Homo sapiens: one gene and its partner. The gene in region 2 interacts genetically with the main gene of each other region. Each region holds a gene or a part of one and is shown on either strand. Other genes may lie near its edges.

Region 1 (3,812 bases), on a different chromosome or scaffold from region 2:
ACAGGTCCAAGGGGGCTCTGGGCTGGGATTACAAAGTATGTGTGTGCAGACGGGTGGGTTGCTGCTCTCAGGGAATGGGGTTGGCTAGGGTAGCTTTTTTGGGGAGTCAACTTTATTGAAGTAAATATACGGTTGACCCTTGAACAACACAGGGGTTGAGGGCATCAACCTCCTCCCTGCAGTCAAAAAATCATATATTAACTTTTGACTCCTCAAAAACTTAACTACTAATAGCCTATTGTTGTCAGAAAGCCTTGTAGATAAAGTTGATTGACACTCATTTTGTTTGTTATATATATTATATACTGTATTCTTACAATAAAGTAAGCTAGTGAAAATAAAATAAGAAAATCATATGGCCGGGTGCAGTGGCTCACACCTGTAATCTCAGCACATTGGGAGGCTGGGGCAGGCGGATCACTTGAGGCCAGGAGTTCAAGACCAGCATGGCCAATATGGTGAAACCCTGTATCTACTAAAAATACAAAAATTGGTCTGCTGTGTTGGCGCACGCCTATGATCCCAGCTACTCAGGTGGTCAAGGCATGAGAATCACTTGAACCTGGGAGGCGGAGGTAGTTGCAGTAAGCCGTGAGTCACCCCACCACTGCGTTCCAGCCTGGGCGACAGAGTCTTGCTGTCTCAAAAAAAAAAAGAAAGAAAATCATAAGGAAGAGGAAATATATCTACTATTCTTTAAGTCGAAGGGGATCATTATGAAGGTCTTCATCCTTCACATTGAGTAGGCTGAGGAGGAAGAGGAAGAGTTGGTCTTGCCGTCACAGAGGTGGCAGAGGTGGAGGCGGAGGAGGTGGAAAGGAAGGCAGAAAAGGCAGGCACACTCAGTGTAACTTACTGAAAAACATCCAGCCACGTGTGGTGGCGCATGCCTGTGGTAATCGCTACTTAGGAGGCTGAGGCAGGAGGATTGGCTGAACCCAGGGGTTTGAGGCTGCTGTGAGCTATGATCACGTCACTGCACTCCTGCCTGGGCAACAGAGTGAGACCCTTTCTCAAAAAAAAAAAAAAAAGAAAAGAAAAAGAAAAAATCCATGTGTAACTGGACCTGCGCAGTTCAGACCCGAGTTGTTCAAGTGTGCACTATACACCAAAAAGTGTGCCGATCGCAATGGTACAGCTCAGTGAATTGTCACAGAGTGGACCCACTTCATGATTGGGCTCAGACAGTCTGAAAACCAACCCCAGAGGTCCCCTTGCATTCCTTCCAGTCTCCCTGTCCCAAGAGCAGCTATCCTGACAGCATGGATTAGTTTGGCCAGATTTTGAACTTTATTCAAATGGAATTACATAATATGTACTTTCCTGTGTCTGGCTTCTTGGTTAACATTTTATTTATTTATTTATTTATTCATTCATTTAGAGGCAGGGTCTCACTCTGTCGCCCAGGCTGGAGTGCAGTGGTGTGACCTTGGCTCACTGTAGCCTTGACCTCCCCAGGCTCAAGCGATCCTCCCACCTCAGCCTCCTGAGTAGCTGGGAGTACAAGCACGCAGTACCACCCCCGGCTAATTTTTGTATCTTTAGTAGAGACCGGGTTTCGCCATGTTGCCGAGACTGGTCTTGAACTCCTCCTGGGTTTAAGCCATCTGTCTGCCTCAGCTTCCCAAAGTGCTGAGATTACAGGTGTGAGCCACTGTGCCTAGCCATCATTATGTTTTGAAATTTATCGGGATTGGCCAGGCACGGTGACTGGCACCTGTAATCCCAGCATTTTGGGAGGCCGAGGTGGGTGGATCACCTGAGGTCAGGAGTTCGAGACCAGCCTGGCCAACATGGTGAAACCCCATCTCTACTGAAAATACAAAAATTAGCTGGTTGTGGTGGTGCATGCCTGTAATCCCAGCTACTCAGGAGGTGGAGGTTGCAATGAGCCGAGATTGTGCTACTGCACTCCAGCCTGGGTGACAGAGCCAGACTCCATCTCAAAAAAAGAAAAGAAAAGAAATTCATCAGTGTTATTTAATGGTTGGAGTTTGTGTTGGAGTTTATTTAATGGTTGGTGTTTACTGCTGTACGTAGTCCCTTTTGTGAATATGCCACTGTTTATCCATTTTCCTCTGGATCGGCATCTGGGCAGCTCCCAGTTTGAGGTTTATTACAAAGCATGCCACTTGTAGCCCTCCTGTGCCTGTCTAGGCAGACACATGTCCTGTGTCCTCTCGGTGTGTACCTAGAAGTGGGGTTGGTATATGTTTAGAGATGCTACCTGGGCGGGATTTTGCAGGTGAAGGACCCAAGGACCCACAGAGCATAAGGGACTTTCTCAGATCACATAGCCCCTTCTCAGAGCTGCTCCGGGGCCCCTTTCCCCACAGAACAGTAGCTGGAACCAGGCCTGGGGCTGACGGTCAGGTGTCCATTGTCCCACTAGCCCCCTTTGCTCCTTTCTATCAGTCCTGGAAGGCCCCCTGTGGCCTTAGGGTTGGTGGCTCCCTCTGCCCCTGGGGGTCCTCAGCCCTCATGCTCCTCTACCCAGTACCGTCAGCCTGCCAGGACTGGAGAGAATGGCCCATGTGTCAAATCCCAGCGCAGGACACTCTTGGCACCTGTTCATGCCCAGTGAGGAGCCAGATCTCAGCAGTTGGGGGGCATTTCTTCACACCCCTCCTCAGTCTTCATGCTCTTCCCCACAGCTCTAATGGTACCAAGTGACAGGTTGGCTTTACTGTGACTCGGGGACGCCAGAGCTCCTGAGAAGATGTCAGCAATACAGGTACCACAGGGGTGAGGGTCTGGGACATGCAAGCATTCCCACCAGCCCCAGCGGGGTGCTTAGCAGAGGAGAGAGGATGCAGCTTAGATCAACCCACTCCCCTTTTTCCCAGCACTCAGTCAGGTACAGGCCTGGGGAAGTGGGGGAGTCTCAACAGGAAGGGACCCAGGGCTCGTTCTCCGGGCAGAGCACCTCACCCAGGCTCACAGAGGCCAGCTCAGAGGCTGTGACCACGAGGGTGCGCCAGCAGGTGGCTGGAGGGGGCCCAGGCTGCACCCGCCCACGTGTCACCTGCCTTGCAGGCCGCCTGGCCATCCGGTACAGAATGTATTGCCAAGTACAACTTCCACGGCACTGCCGAGCAGGACCTGCCCTTCTGCAAAGGAGACGTGCTCACCATTGTGGCCGTCACCAAGGTAATCAGGTGACGCCCACCCCACCATCCCACTGCTGGGCCTTCCCTCTGCAGGGGGAGGTGGGCCTGAGAGCATGTCTGGGCTGCCCTCTCCCCAGGACCCCAACTGGTACAAAGCCAAAAACAAGGTGGGCCGTGAGGGCATCATCCCAGCCAACTACGTCCAGAAGCGGGAGGGCGTGAAGGCGGGTACCAAACTCAGCCTCATGCCGTGAGTACCACGAGGAGGGGTTGGGGAGGGAAGGGGCCTTGGTCCTCCTGAAGGAGCATCAGGAGCAAGCAGGGAGGCCAGAGTGAGGGGCTTGGGTGTTGGGGAGGGCCTCAGGAGGAGGTGCAGGGTGCGGGTGCGGGACCTCACAGAGCAGGGCTGGGGGCAGAGGCAGGAGGGTGGCAAAGAAGGGACAGGGAGCAGAAGAAGAGGGCCTCAAATGCCTGACTGAGCGAGTGCGAGCCACGGGTGCCAAGCAGAGGGAACCCCTTCAGAAAGGGGAGCCAGGGTCAGTACCTTTGGGCCACCATGACCTCCAGCCCTGCTGCTCCCCAGTTGGTTCCACGGCAAGATCACACGGGAGCAGGCTGAGCGGCTTCTGTACCCGCCGGAGACAGGCCTGTTCCTGGTGCGGGAGAGCACCAACTACCCCGGAGACTACACGCTGTGCGTGA
Region 2 (4,490 bases):
TGATTGTGAATAGGCCTTACTTATATAGCTTAATAACTAAAAAAGGGGGCATTGTACATAGTTTGTATGTTTTATATGAGTGTATGTATGTGTATGTTTTATATGAGTGCATGTATACACAGGGGTAAGGGCATGGTTTGCCCTGGGCTTGGGTTAAATTCATATAGTTGCCATTCTTATTATATATGGATTCTATAATACTTTCTTATAAAGTAGTAAAATGTATTACACTTAATCAGGCAATTGTTCTGGTATAATGTATGAAGTAATTGAGATGCACTATATGAACACAAACTCTACATCTAGACTGCCTGGGTTCAAATGCTAACTGCCACTTTCTGGCAACGTGACCTTGGATGAATTACTCCATCTCTCTGTGATTTTGTTTCCTCATCTTTAAAATAGGAAGTCACTTCATAGGGTTATTATAAGGACTGAATTATTGAATCTATTCAAAAGCACTCTGTATTTGGGAAGCTGAGGAAGGGGTATTGCTTGAGCTCAGGAGTTAGAGGCTGCAGTAAGCTATGATTGTGCCACTGCATTCTAGCCTGGGTGACAGATCAAGACCCTGTCTCTGGGGGAAAAAAAAAGAAAGAAAGAAAAGAAAAGAAGCATTTAGAATTTGTTTAGGTCGGGGACTGGGGATCCATCCTTGGATACCTATTGCCTAAACCATGCCTGAGTCAGTGAGAATAAACACTGGCTAGGTGGGTGGATGGATGGATAAGTGGATGCCTATCTGGTTTGATAGAGCTGCCACTATATACATGTGGTGGATAAAAATGTGTAGCCATGTAGAGAGTAATTACATACTGGCCCTCAGTGCTGGCAAAGGTGTAGTTCCACTGGCCGAGGGAATCAAGACATAGTGGTCCTTCTGCTAAGCCAAGGGCTGCCACAATGACACAGTAGCCAGATCCTGCAATTCCAATGAGAGCAGCCAATACAGAAGAAAGCATCTAGGGAAAAGCAGACACACAGGAAGTGAGCCACAGAGTGCCACAGCTACATCTTAGGAGTCATTTTCACCACCAGGGCAGGAGGACCTACCGCACATCGTTTGCCACAGTTTTCATGGCCACAGCAGCCACAGCAGTCATCCTGTTCCAGCCCAATGAAGACAAATGCTGGCAGGAGCATCTGGTTAGGAAACAAACAAAGTCAGGTCATTGTCTTGCTCAGGCTCATATGGGTCAGGTTAGGCATCTCTTGGTAAAATATATTTATTTCCAATGACATTAACTGGCTTTGATTAGGTTGACCAGATATCTCAAAGAATGTAAACCTCTGAGGAGAAAAAGACCATTTAAATGTCATATCTGCTTGTTTTCATGTAATCTGTCAAAGCATTTTTTAGGGTGAGGATGTAACATGGGAGGAGTAAAATAATAAACTGTAAACGTGTTTATTCCACAAGAGTTTATCACACGACCCCAGATAACAAACTCTGTTTTGGAAATATTAAACCCTTTCTTTAAATCTGATTTTTTCCACTTGTAAAATGCAGAATATACCAACAAATCTTTAATAGAATAACTGAAACTTTTTTGTAAATGGGAGACATGAAAGCTATATATAATAAATATTAACTGCTTCCTTGATTATACAAATGCATAGTTTTAACTTAACAATATTAAGCTCTTAAAATATAGTAAATATGAAATACTTCAGGTTCAAGATCGAAAGAAACTTAAGTGTGATGTTATGTTTAAGACAAATAATCATGTTAACATGATAATAATGCTTAAATTTGAGGCAGACGGGCACTGTGGCTCATGCCTGTAATCCCAGCACTTTGGGAGGCCAAGGTAGGAGGGTCACTTGGGCCCATGAGTTCAAGACCAGCCTGGGCAACATGGCGAAACCCCGTCTCATTAAATAAAATAAAATTAAATAAAATCTCATTAAATAAATAATTTAGGGCAGATTTGCCATGCCATAATCAGTGTATTAGGTTTAAATGTTTTACTATCTTTTACTTGATTAAGAAAATTTATCACGTATGGTACCATTCCATAAAATTTCTCCTTAAAATTTTTAATCCCAGCACTTTAAAGTAGCAAACTTAAGTTTGCTCACATTCTTTCCATGCTGTGGTTGAAGCTAATGCTTTCAGCTCCCAGGTTGGCAGGGAAATTCCTCTCACTTCAATCAAAAACAATTCTTGGAAAAAATAACACATTCCACTATTAGCTTCAGACACCGACCTGCTGCTAACTGTAGGGTTTTTCCTAGACGCCACACCCCAGCCTTACATAAAGGAGAAAGCTTAGAGTTCTTTTAAAATAGCAATGCACTCACAATTCATTATTTTTCCCTATCACAGATGGCTGAAAATAAACAGCAGAGAATTTGGATTCAAAACTGTTGATTTAGGCAGAGAACCAGCCAACCCCTTCCGGCTCCCCAGAGCAAATGTTAAATGACTGCCCGTTCTAGTAGAAACTCTATAGTCTCTCAAATCTGATTTAAAAGCGAATATCTGTTTCCTACCTATAGAGTTTAGCAAAAAGGCAGTTCACTTTTAGTTGAAAGAGCATTTTGTAAAACAACATCTCATAAAATTACTACGCTATACTGTACCAATCTCGCTTTTGTATAATCTGCTTTCAAAGGAATGAACAGCAACAAAAAAGTCACTTGATTTAGAAATATGCATTACAAAAAACTTTCCATGAAAATACATAATGAAAACATCTAGGAAACAGGAGAGAATTCAGTAATAATCCTGAATGACTTACCAGCAGGCCACCTCCTACGATGCCAGAAAAGAACCACACGAAGCGGCTGAGGTGGTTTTCGGAGGCATACTTTGTTTCCCCATTGGGAAAGTAAAGCAAAATATTAGCCGCGATGCACAGGAGGGCGAGCCCCACCAGAGAATGTCCGATGCATCGTGCACACTTCCCATAGCACATGGTGGTCTGCTAGGTTTTCTCCCCCTTCTCTTTGTCTTCAGCTCAGTGATACCCCAAATTAGATGAAAGTGTGCCCTTCTGGTGGAGAAAGCAAACACCACTCTCAGCCCATTCCTGCTACCTCTTAAATACTGCGATTCTTAGTCACTGAGGGGATGAGGTACTTTGCTTTCATTGGTCCTAATGGCAGGCTCTGGCTGTGGTGCGAAGAGGCAGGGGGAATGTCCCGCCCTTCAGACGAAATCCTTGGGACAGGCAAAACCAGGGGCAGGATGTGAGAAACAGCCTCAGTCATAGGCAACAGGGAAAATGATTAATCTTGAACAAGGCATTGACTGTGCAACTCCTCCACAAGATAAAGAATCAACAGGAAAGCCTAACATGACTTTCCAGTAACTGCCAAGTGTCCGAGATGCAACAGCCCTGGTTGAGGCTTTGAAAGACAGTGAGCTGTGCCCCTGCTCCATGCAGCTGTCTGGACAGCTTCCAATCTGAGAGCTCTGTGTTCATTTCTACCTTTGTGCTGATTTAATTTACAACCTGGGGCAAATCTCCTGAGCTCATTTCCTTGTCTATTAAATACAAGGTGTCTGAGACGTCTCCCATGGATTTGAGAAGGCTGTTGGGAAAACTACAGAGCAAACTTCTTTACTCTGCCTACAGCAAGCTCTGCAGGATGGATTTCAGTGTTCAGCGTCCCTGGACATCTGCCTCTAAAACAAATCTGCACCACAACAGAGGTGGCATCAGTCAACACAAAGGGCTCAGGTGCTTTTTAAAAATTATTGAGTGTTGCTGTCAGGAAAAGCAATGCCAGGAAGGGCCAAGGAAGGCCTAAAGCATGGGACAAAAATAAAAAGAGGAAGAAGAGAGGGGGAGGAAGAGAATGGGAGAGAAGGAAAGAGGAAAGGAGGAAGGAAGAGAGGAAGGAAAGAAGAGAAGGAGGGAGAGAAGGAGAGAGGGAAAAAGGGAGGAAGGGAGGGAGGGAGGAAGGAAGGAAGGAAAAAAGGAAGGAAGGATGGGGGGAGGGAAGGAAGGAGGGAGAGGGAGAAAAAAATAAGACAAAGGGACTTGGCAAGCAGAGTGGAGAAACAAGGTTCAGAGAAACAGAACTGGCTAGGAGTGTCAGAACCCACACAGAGGTAAACAGATGGTTTACCCAGCCAGATCCTGAGACCAGCTTCCACAGGCTCCCCACACAGGGCAGAGAAAGGGTGTTAGACTAACTTTCTAGGTGGTTACCTTGCAGAAGGAGGGGCTGGGCACTGAATAAATTTATGCCTTGAACAGCAGATTGCACCAGCCAGTGGATGGTGGTGGGAGGTGGACAGGGTGGCCGGGTGGGGCCAGGCCTGGAGGGCCTTGTCACCAGGACAAGATAGAGAGTACAGAAAATAGAAAAGGACCAAGGTAGGGAGGCATTAGCTTAGAAGAAGAAGGTGAATGAGGTTCACGAATCTAGAGTCTGAAGGATTTGGCCCGGAACTAGAGGGCGGGACACATACCAAATTTGAGGAGACCAGCTGTGGTTAGTGATGTGGCATGGGACCGGAGGAGGGCCCAAGAAGT

The links.
Region 1: changes in TM4SF1 (region 2) and CSK are lethal when combined (synthetic lethality), as found in Homo sapiens cells (one large-scale study listed by BioGRID).

What each region holds. Positions count from the first base shown.
Region 1 is NC_000015.10:74,795,579-74,799,390, forward strand, and holds part of CSK (tyrosine-protein kinase CSK), read left to right. Parts: intron 1-2,633; exon of another isoform or gene 2,634-2,654; 5' UTR 2,655-2,719; coding exon 2,720-2,734; intron 2,735-3,036; coding exon 3,037-3,150; intron 3,151-3,247; coding exon 3,248-3,360; intron 3,361-3,693; coding exon 3,694-3,812. UniProt on the Homo sapiens protein: Non-receptor tyrosine-protein kinase that plays an important role in the regulation of cell growth, differentiation, migration and immune response.
Region 2 is NC_000003.12:149,374,627-149,379,116, forward strand, and holds the start of TM4SF1 (transmembrane 4 L6 family member 1), read right to left. Parts: upstream 3,024-4,490; 5' UTR 2,922-3,023; coding exon 2,745-2,921; intron 1,144-2,744; coding exon 1,054-1,143; intron 963-1,053; coding exon 817-962; intron 1-816.